3 linked regions of the Homo sapiens genome follow. The protein of the gene in region 1 purifies or fractionates together with the protein of each later gene. This does not show direct contact. Each region holds a gene or a part of one and is shown on either strand. Other genes may lie near its edges. The genes, in order: AGPAT2, SLC2A12 and INTU.

The links.
Region 2: the proteins of AGPAT2 (region 1) and SLC2A12 purify together in Homo sapiens (co-immunoprecipitation; one large-scale study listed by IntAct). This does not show direct contact.
Region 3: the proteins of AGPAT2 (region 1) and INTU purify together in Homo sapiens (affinity purification with mass spectrometry, with the first as the bait; one large-scale study listed by BioGRID). This does not show direct contact.

The regions. Positions count from the first base shown.
Region 1 is NC_000009.12:136,677,346-136,680,996, reverse strand, and holds part of AGPAT2 (1-acyl-sn-glycerol-3-phosphate acyltransferase beta), read left to right. Parts: intron 1-3,440; coding exon 3,441-3,574; intron 3,575-3,651. UniProt on the Homo sapiens protein: Converts 1-acyl-sn-glycerol-3-phosphate (lysophosphatidic acid or LPA) into 1,2-diacyl-sn-glycerol-3-phosphate (phosphatidic acid or PA) by incorporating an acyl moiety at the sn-2 position of the glycerol backbone.
Region 2 is NC_000006.12:134,042,563-134,046,213, forward strand, and holds part of SLC2A12 (solute carrier family 2, facilitated glucose transporter member 12), read right to left. Parts: intron 1-3,651. UniProt on the Homo sapiens protein: Insulin-independent facilitative glucose transporter.
Region 3 is NC_000004.12:127,705,829-127,709,479, reverse strand, and holds part of INTU (protein inturned), read right to left. Parts: intron 2,994-3,651; coding exon 2,511-2,993; intron 910-2,510; coding exon 812-909; intron 1-811. UniProt on the Homo sapiens protein: Plays a key role in ciliogenesis and embryonic development.

The sequences.
Region 1 (3,651 bases):
GTGCGTGTTATACCACAATCAAAACAGAGGAGGGCTCGGCGCGCTGGCTCCTTCCTGTCATCCCAGCACTTTGGGAGGCCGAGGCGGGCGGATCATGAGGTCAGGAGTTTGAGACCAGCCTGGCCGACATGGTGAAACCCCGTCTCTACTAAAAATACAAAAATTAGCCGGGTGTGGTGGCGCACACCAGTAGTCCCAACTACTTGCTAGGCTGAGGCAGGAGAATCGCTTGCCGGGAGGTGGAAATGGCAGTGAGCTGAGATCTCGCCACTGCACTCCAGCCTAGGTGACAGCAAGACTCCGTCTCAAAAAAAATAAAAAATAAATGAAGATCTTATTTTTTAATAATTTCAGATTTACAGAGAAGTTGCAAAGATATTACGGGGGACCCCATGTGGCCCTCACCAGTTTCCTCCCTTGTTAACATCTTACATCACCAAGATGCAGTTGTTAACACTAAGAAACTAGCTGGCCGGGCGCGGTGGCTCACACCTGTAATCCCAGCACTTTGGGAGGCCGAGGTGGGAGGATCACCTGAGGTCAGGAGTTCGAGACCAGCCTGGCCAACATGGTGAAACCCCGTCTCTACTAAAAATACAAAAACTAGCCAGGCCTGGTGGCAGGCACCTGTAATCCCAGCTACTCAGGAGGCTGAGGCAGGAGAATTGCTTGAACCCGGGAGGCAGAGGTTGCAGTGAGCTGAGATCACACCACTGCACTCCAGTCTGGGTGACAGAGTGAGACCCTGTCTCAAAAATAAAAAAGTAAATAAAAGATGGAACTGGCCAATGTCACTACCAGAGGGAACCAATGTCCCTTTCAGATGTGGCCCGAGCCTCCTGCAGGCAGCTAGCTTTGGAATTGCAGGTGTGTCTTGGCTGCTGCTAGAAATCATACACATGTCCTTCACAGGAGATGAGTGTGGACCTGTCCTGTTCTTTCCCCGCGCCCCAGCTGTCTGTGAAATGGACCCTAATTTACTTTCCCTCTTTCTACTGGTGGCTATTTAAGCATTTTCAGGTTTTCCTAATTCACTGCACACTTCAGCACCACAGGCTTCTCACTCCAGCCGTCGGGCGAATTCCTGGAAGATTCTGAGAGGGGAGGGGCCAGGTTTCCTCAGGGCTCTGGCCGGGCCTGCCAACCTGCCCTCCACAGAAGTATCTTGTCTGTGCGACTCCTCACTCCTGCCAGCCGCTGGGCCTGTTCCCAACACCCTGGCTGGCACCTCCTGTTATCAGGCGTTTTAATCTGTGCCAGGGGGAAGGATGAGGACAGTCTCTTGTTTCCATTTGCGCTTCTTTGATTGGCGACACGGCCGTCTTGCTAGCACCAGACAGTTCTGTGTTTCCTGTTGGTGAACTGCCGGCTTTTGCCTCCTCGTCTTCTTGGAGCGTCACAGGGGTCCGGGAAGCTGGATTGCGCAAATGAGTGTGGAGGCAAAACAGCCCTGCAGTTCCCCTGAGTGTGCGGGTGCTACCAGCCCGGGTGTGCCTTCTGGGTGGGAGGGGACGGTGGCCGGCGCGGCCTGGAGAGGAGATATCTAGAGTTGGCTGAGGAAGGCAGATCTGAGGAGGCCCCAGGCTTCCAAGTCCAGGGACGGACGGCTGGACTCATCACCAGAATTAACCATTAGGCCCCCCTTGACTCAGTTTCCCCATCTGCAACAGGGGGTCATGAGCATTGCCCCATCAGCCTGAGGTGGTGCTGCCGCAGGCCTGGGCTCACACATGGAAGGGCAGAGTGCCAGGGCTGGGGAGGGGACAGGGGTTTGTGTCGCATGGGAACAGACGTCAGCCAGAGAAGGTGGAGAGTTCTGGAGATAGAGGGAGGAGATGGCTGCTAGACACCGAATGTGCCCAGCGCCCATGAACTGTGCACCCGGAAAAGGCCAAGGAGATACATTTTATGTTACGTGTATTTTACCACAATTTTTTTTTAAAGGCCGGGCGAGTTGGCTCAGGCCTGTAAGCCCAGCACTTTGGGAGGCCGAGGTCGGCAGGTTGTTTGAGCCTAGGAGTTCGAGACCAGCCTGGCCAGAGATGGTGAAAGCCCATCTGTACCAAAAATACAAAAACTAGCGAGGTGTGGTGGCTCACGTCTGTGGTCCCAGCTAGTCAGGAGCCTGAGGTGGGAGGAGCCCAGGAGGTGGAGGCTGGAGTGAGCCCAGATTGTGACACTGCACAATGTGACACATTGTGTCACAGAGCAAGACAGAGCAAGGGGAGCCTGGGTGACAGAGCAAGACCCTGTTAAAACAACAAAAATCCCCACCAGTATGGCTTTGAGAGAAGGCCCCGGCTTTGAATCTCTGCTCTGTGGCCTGGGGCAGTTACTCAGACTCATCTGTAGAAAGTGTGGGGCCCTTAGGACTGCTGGGGGATCAAATGGTGGGGGGCACTAGTCTGCATGGAGAGGGGAGCAGCACTGGCAGCCCCCCAGTCAGCGCTGGCACAGCCTTGCCCCGGCCATCCACCCCTGCTGGAGCTTCGGAGTGGAGCTCCGTCCTCCTGGCTCCATCCCCGCCGGCTGCCCTGTGATGGGGTGCCCTATCTGGGGTGTGCCCAGAGCTTCCTGGCAGCACAGCAGGGCAGAGGTTGGGACGCTCGGAGCTGGTCAGAGTCTTCGGGTACCCCTTGGACATCCCTGGTCCCAACCATGACGGGCTGCTTGGACAAGGCCACCTCACATTTGCAGGTGCTCCAAGGGCAGCCCCCAGTGGGCTGGGCCCCTGCCAGAGTGGGGGCTGCTGTGGCCAGGGCTCAGGTGGCCCAGACCCTGGCTCTGCTGCTGCTCCTGGTGTGACCTCAGACAAGCCCCGAGCCCCTCGCCGCCTCTTCACGGGGAAAGGGAACCGGCCTGATTCTGTAGGGTAGGGGTGAGAGAGGGTCTCGGTCTCGGCTCTTTTCTGGAAGAACCTTTCGGAGGTCGTTTCAGAGGTCTCCACTGGCGCCGACACTTTCTTCCTGATGTGGCCCTGCCTTGAGGGGCCAGTGACCTTCCCCAGGGTGTGTGGGGCCCCATTTCCTCTGCTGGGGTGCAGAGGCTGCTCTCCCCGACGTGGGTCCTTCATAGCGGACGTGAGAGCCAGTGCCAGTTCCTTTCCGGCTGGGTCCCCTGTGGGGTGGATGAGGGCTGGGTGGGCCCTGGATGTGGATTTGGAAGTGGGCGCCTTCCCATGCTCCTAGCATCCGAGTTCCAGAGGCTCTGGGTTTTCCTCTGTTGCTGGGGAGACGGAGGCAGGGCAGCCGTCCAGGTGGGTGAGCCGGGCCCGGGACTCTGTCCGCTTCAGGGGCTCCCTCCCCTGTGTCTCCCGGTCTCCTGCCCCGTGCCAGGAGGGCCCCTCCCCAGCCTCCTCCACACCCCACCCCCAGGCCTTCGCGCCCCAGCCTCGGCTGCGGGATCTGTGGGACCCGTGTTCATGGTGGCCTCCCCTGCAGCATCATCGGCTGGTTCGTGCGAAGCTTCAAGTACTTTTACGGGCTCCGCTTCGAGGTGCGGGACCCGCGCAGGCTGCAGGAGGCCCGTCCCTGTGTCATCGTCTCCAACCACCAGAGCATCCTGGACATGATGGGTAGGCCGGGCCTCGGGGGTGGCTTCTGGGGTTTGAGTGGGGCCGGCTGAGCTGGGGCTGTGTGGGGCTGGGTCCCG
Region 2 (3,651 bases), on another chromosome or scaffold:
AGAAGAAAAGGTCAGGACAAGTTGTCGAGTTGTGGGGAATGGGGAAAGGGAGAGACACCAAGAGCTCAGTATGACAAGAAGCCTGAGGATTTTTTAAAAGTTGATTTATAAGAAACTCCTGGCTGGGTTAGGTGGCTCACACCTGTAATCCCAGCACTTTGGGAGGCAGAAGTGGGAGGACTGCTTGAGCCCAGGAGTCTGAGACCAGCCTGAGCAACATAGTAAGACTCTGTCTCTATTAAAAATACAAAAAAATTAGCTGAGTGTGGTGGCGTGCACCTGTAATCCCAGCTACTTGGGTGGCTGAGGCAGGAGAATTGCTTGAACCTAAAACATCAAGCCTGCAGTGAGCTGTGATTCTGCCACTGCACCCCAGCCTGGGCGACAGAGTAACACTCTGTCTCAAAACAAAACAAAACAAAACAAAACAAAACAAAAACCAAACACACACACACACCCCAAAAAAGAAACTCCTTATGGTGGATTTGACAAGAGAATTTTCAGGATGGGCCTACCTAATATTCAATTGCACTACAGCACTCTTCAAATTCTTAGTAAAAATCTACAAAGAGCTTATATGAATGGGATTCAAGAATATGAAGGAAAGGGGGCTGCTGTCATCTAAGAATGGATTGGAGCAGGGATAAGAGAAAAGACCAGTTGCTGGAAGTGGAGGGCAAGGACCCAGAAAAAGCAGGAAGTTGGTGCAGGAGGGTGATCAGAACCACGAAACTCCTGAAGTGTACTGTGTGTGTTTGGATGGGAGGCTGGTGGGGAGGAAGGAGGCATGTGGATTTAACCATAAGGGGCCTGCAACTATTTTTATTTTAAAATTAAAAGAATGGTGACACCATAAAGCTGTAGAATTTGGAGACATGTAAATGAGGATTTCTAAAACTCCCACTTCTGTCACCACTACCGTCACTTTTAGAAATTTTCTTGATTTCTCAGGCCAGGTGCAGTGGCTCACACGTGCAATCCCAGCACTTTGGGAGGCCGAGATGGGCGGATCACCAGGGCAAGAGATCAAGACCATCTGGCTAACATGGTAAAACCCCGTCTCTAGTAAAAATACAAAAATTAGCAAGGTGTGGTGGCATGTGCCTGTAGTCCCAGCTGCTTGGGAGGCTGAGGCAGAAGAATCGCTTGAACCCGGGAGGCAGAGGTTGCAGTGAGCCGAGATCACACCACTGCACCCTAGCCTGGCGACAGAGCGAGACTCTGTCCCAAAAAAAAAAAAAAAAAAGAAAAGAAATTTTCTTGATGTCTCTAAATTAATATGGTCTCCTTCCCAAGAATTCCTGTTTTCATGGTACTTAGTTCACAAAAGTTTTGTGACATCTTTTGTAAGCTAAGGAAGCTGTGCCTGCTGCCAGCTTCAGATTCCTTTGTCATCCTCTTTCCCTGCTTTGAACTCTGTGCTCCCAGAATTCCGAAGTATTGGAAGCTCCCTGAACGTGCCATTCTCTCTTCTCCAAACATGTTCAAGCTATTTTCCCTCCTTAGAATGCTCCGTAAAACTACTGGCCTCAGTTACACGTGCTCGGCTCAACTTAGCCATCCTGTCTTCCAGGAGTCTCCAGGGACTGGCTGAACTTCCCCCTTTGCTATCATAGATATTACACATAATACATGTATAATATCAAGCCATCTCCTCCATCAAAGGATTCCTGATCCCTCATCGCTCTCCACTAATTGGCAGTAAGCACCTGCACTGTGAGGATGCCTTTCGTTTCTCACCAGACTCCAGGGTCTGGCATCATATCTGATTCCTACTATCCACTCAGTATTTGCTGAATGGTTATCTTGCAGTTAGTTCGATTTTTATTTTTTTGATAAGTTGGTAAAACCTACAGACAAGAATAAAGGCCTGGGCACAGTGGCTTCACGCCTGTAATCCCAACACTTTGGGAGGCCGAGGTGGGTGGATCACTTGAGGTCAGGAGTTTGAGACCAGCCTGGCCAACATGATGAAACCCCATCTCTACTAAAAATACAAAAATTAGCAGGATGTGGTGGCAGGCATCTGTAATCCCAGCTACTTGGGAGGCTGAGGCAGGAGAATCGCTTGAACCCAGGAGGTGAAGGTTGCAGTGAGCCGAGATAGCGCCACTACACTCCAGCCTGGACAACAAGAGTGAAACTCCGTCTAAAAAAAAAAAAAAAAAAAAAGAATAATGTCTTAGATACATTTTTTTTTAACCCTGAAGCATCCAGCACTGTGCCTCTCATGTAGTAGGTGCCCAATATGTATTTGCAGAAGTAAAATGCTCTTTAGTTCAGCAATCGCTTCTTTACTCATTGACTCCTTCAACAATTAAGCATGAACTATGTGCCAGCACTGTCTGGCAGGCAAGTTTCATTGACGGCTATTGCAATCAGCCTTCATGGTTGCTGGCAGCATCGTGTTGAGATGTTTCCTAGGTTACATCTGGATTTAATGGCACTAGAAGGTGGTACTTGTGCCACATGGATGTGATCCCTCATGTGTAGGCTGGAAATACAGAGAAAAAGGCATGATTCCTACCTATTATGAATTGCACAGAACTTTCCAAGCACTGTCAGTCAGCTCAGAGCTCTGATAGGTGCATGAAATATATATTTTATCGAGAAACTTATAATCTTATAGAAAAATACAAGTTACATAAAAAGTTAGGGAATTAACTAAAACAGAATGCAAACAAGTCCTGAAATGAGTGTAACTGGAATCCAAATTCACAGATTGGAAAGTAGAAGCATTATTGCTGGCTGGTAATATGGGTCAAGAGAGCAAACCTGGACTGGATTTAGGAAAGTAAGGTTCAGATCACTGTGCTGTCCTCTAATATCTGTGCTACCCAAGACAAGTCCCTTTGCTTCTTTCCAGGAGGAACCTGGGCTTGAAGGTGAAGAACAGTGTGGAATCAGAGTCCTAATTAGTTACCGGCTAGACTTTGATAAGTCCCTTAAGGTTTGTTTCTCTCTGTGTCCTCATTCACAAGATAAAGATAATAATATTACCTCCTTCATAGAGTTGTAAGAATGAATGAGACAGAAGAGACCCTGGTACCTGGTAGTAAATGATTGGTAAATGTTAGCTGTTGTTCTTAGCCTCAGTTTCCTTATCTGTGAACTGGGGTGCCTCATGGGGTTGCTGTAAAGATCTGAAGGGATTACAGTAGTAGAACCACTTGGCCCACAAGAATCATTTAACAAAAGCTCCTTTAATCTGAATCTAGAAGGTAAAATCTTCATAATACGGAGGTAAAGCTTTGAAACAGTCTTTTACTGATAGCAACAGAAATAAAATAATACCTTATTTCCAGCATAACAATTGTGTCTTTCATAAATTCTTGAATTCCTTTGCTTTCAAAATTGGCAGTACCTACATAATTGGGCTTGCAGCATGAAAAATTCCTCCTGTGATTTTGTCTGAAGGTTTCTGCAGCTTAGTTTCCCAATATAAATAAAACATTTCATTAGTGTGAGGATGCTCTCTCACCACACAAATTGACCCTAATTACAACTTCCATTTCCCCTGTTCTTGAAAAACTTTGCACATCTGAAGCTGAGCTGTCATGGTTTTTTAATTAGTATTACTCATAACTCCCAACTCTAACTTCCATAAAGTGTGGAAATGTGTGTGGGAGCAAGACATTTTGTATAAAATAA
Region 3 (3,651 bases), on another chromosome or scaffold:
TTCCCTACTCAATGAACGTTTGAAATTATACCTATTTTCTAAAGAGAGTGTTATGGGACAAGTTCCTTGGGACCCAAACTCTGAGAGTGAGATATGCCGGGAGGAAACTTATTAGGAAGTACTCTTGGGAAAAACAGCTGTAGGGGTGTAGTGACTGAGCAGGATTGAGCAGAGGGAGAAGATGAACTGTGCTGCAGCGGCAACAAGTCTCAGCCGATACCACTGTGTACTCTGAAGCTTGGCTGGCCTTTCAGAGTTGTCTTCAATTTAGGCAAGGGGCCAAGCCTTTGTACTCACTTATTTATTAGTCATTAGAAATGGGCTCCTCCCAGGGAGGAATGTAACCTTAGCTGAGTCAACAAGTTTCCGTGTAGGACACGGCTAGGGGAGTGACAAGGCTAGGGGAGCTGTGAGGCATTAGCAGCCACCATTCTCAAGTGTTGGAAAGGAATACCCTGAGCTAAGGTGTAACTGGACAGCACACCACTGCATCCACCAAACACTCTAAAAAATAGTAAACTCTAATTTAAAAATTATATTAAATATACAAAAGGGAGGTTACCTGTGGAGAGATAAAGGGAGACTTTCACATTTTGAAATATTACTTTGTGTGTTTTTCTCTTTCATAATACTAATATGGTCATTTTCCTAAATGTGTAATGAAATATTAAAGAAATACCACAGATATTACCTTTAATATGTAAGATATATCAGAATTACATTTGTTGAGTAAAATACATGTTATAAAATTGTACTTTCTCACTGTAAAACTTCCTGAGTTTAAGTGAACAAGAATAAGAAAGTTTCTTACTTCACTGTGTTATATATTTCTAATTCTTTTTCTGGAAGGTCCTTTTTCAAGTTTCCCAAATGAAATGGATTTGGAAGAGTAGACTTCTTTTTAGTGACCTGAAAAATATAGTTAAGTAGATCAGTTTATATCTAAGAATGGAATCATATAGCAGAAACAATTTAAAAATTAAACATCCTTCTGAGGGAACTACTTACCATTTGCAATGCTTCCTTTAAATATTTTTGATGCTAACTTGTACCTCTTGGCTTATCCATGGCTGACAGGGATCCCAGGGTCATGTCCTGGGAGGGCATGATGGTGTTCCCTGAAAACCTCCTACCAGAGCCATTACCAAATTTGTATGTATGCATACTTGTCTCCCCTCCCTAGACTCTGCACTCCTCAAAGTCAGGGGCTGTGTCTTATTCATCTCTGTATCTCCTTTGTGTAGTATGGCCCTTGGCACTTAGTAGGTATTCAATCAACCTTTGTTGAATGGCTGAATCTTAAAGGTTAACTCAATTTCTCTTAGGAGCTATTCATGGCTTGGTAATTCTTTAATCTGTCCAAATCTTTTTAGACTATTTCCTACCAATTCCATCGACTGTGATAATAGGTATGGTACTGATGTAAGTACTTCCAAATACACCCCACTTAGGGGTCCAAAAGTATTCTATTGTTTGGTATGAGGAGATTGCATCTGGTTATTTATGCCATGCTACTAGCATTTCATAGTTTATTTGTGCTCCTTCTCAGACTCCTCATCTGGTGTCACCTCCATCCACCCAAATGACAAGTTTCAAAAATGTTTTGAAAGACGACAGCATCACTAGAATAAGTACAAAGCCTCCCAGGGTGAATGTTTTGATAATCATTTGGATATTTTATGGTATTTTCATGGGAAAAAATTAGGAAAAATGATCTGAAAAATGAACATCCTCTTTAGAGTCAACTTTTAAATCTTTAAGTGTTACAAAGGTTCAGATTTTAAAATCTATAAAAATAGGATAATACACACAGAGACATACACACACACACACACAGACACACAAATACACACATTTAGGGTTCTGATTCTCTTTGCTGAATATTTCATTGGCTATTTAGTCAGATCAGCCCCCAACAGGCCCCACAGCTTGGATGCTCTCTGTTGTCATTGCAAATAGGGAAGAGATGAACACGGAAATTGAGATTAAAGTTTTCCTATTTCTAAGTACTGTTAAACAGATATGAATGTCAAGGGGTTCTTATCTTATTATTTGATATTTCTTTTTTTTTTTTTTTTTTTTTTTTTGAGACAGAGTCTCACTCTGTCACCCAGGCTGGAGTGACAAATCATGCAGTGGCACAATCTCGGCTCATTGCAACCTCTGCCTCCTGAGTTTAAGCAATTCTTGTGCCTCAGCCTCCCGATGCATCTGGGATCACAGGTGTGCACCAACGTGCCTGGCAATTTTTTTGTAATTTTATTAGAGACTGGGTTTTGCCACATTGGCCAGGCTGGTCTTGAACTCCTGGCCTCTAGCAATCTGCCACACCTGGCCTGATATTTCTTTTTCTTTTTGGTTCAAAATCATTGGTTTGCCAGCAGTGACTGAAATAACCACCATGTCAAATGAAGAATGGTATGCCACTAAAAAAATGTCTTGCAATTATAAAACAAGGACTGGAGAGACAACTTAGCTCCCAGAACATACACACTTGAATAAGCACACACCTTAAGCAAGGTCCCACTTTCTTCTAAACCATCAGAGCCCTGAGATTCTCTTTGCTTCCGTACTGCATCCGGTGTAGTATGGGGGCTAAAGCCATCATCTTCTCCACCTTCACAACCATTGTCAGATCCTCCACTACTACAGGAAGGACTAGGCTTGCGTGTCTTTAAGGAATAGTCACCAAAAAGCGTTCTTCTGCATGTTGGAGAAGTTGCTACTTTGGAAGTACCTTGTAGCCTACTGAGAATAGGCGAAGTGGTCAAGCTATCTGTTTTTTCACGTGATCCAGTAAGGAACCAGTCAGCACAAGACAAACAGGGGACTGGAGAAGATGCTAGCCGTTCATCTATGCGAGAATCTACTCCATCCAGCTGGTGAAGAGTTGTTTTGACTTGATCCACATATACACAGTCTGGTCCAGGACTCCCAATAGCTTTGGATGCGCAACCTCCAGCTTCTAATAGTACACATAGCATATAATGTTTCTATAGGGAAAAAAATTACAAATGTAGGTTTAGCTACCATGAAAATATTTACATAAAATGTGCATGTATAAACTTATAAATATCGAAGACATAGAGGCCTATGGCATAATCATGTGATGATTATTAAAAATTCCTCCGTCATCTTTCCTTTTTGGTTATTATTAATGCTTCTTGATCCCAGTTGAAAACAATCTTACATTGCCTTATCTTGATATACCATCAAACCACTTCTTTTGAGACACAGAATTCCCTAAGATAGCTGTCAAGAGCCTCAGTTACTGGAAGTCCTTTCATCTACAATTGCATATTTATTCTGTTTCTGATTCTATATTATTTTCATGTCTCCCTCTATCTCCCAAAACAAGCCAATGGATAAAACCACTATAGAAAGGGGAACAAAAGACTTTAAAAACCTGCTAAAATATTTTCTTAGACTTTATTAATATTTGTCCATGAGTATTAAATGGATGCAAAAGAAAAGGAATAAGGGGACATGTAACATTTCCTTGAATACTGATATTAGACATACTAATAATTTTACATGAGCATGTTTGTGTATTTATTTAGACAGTCAATAGATACCTACCTACCGCTGCATCCCTCAACCCCTGCCGAAAAGAAAAAAATAAAAGAAAAGAAGAAAAATCCTAAGAAAGAA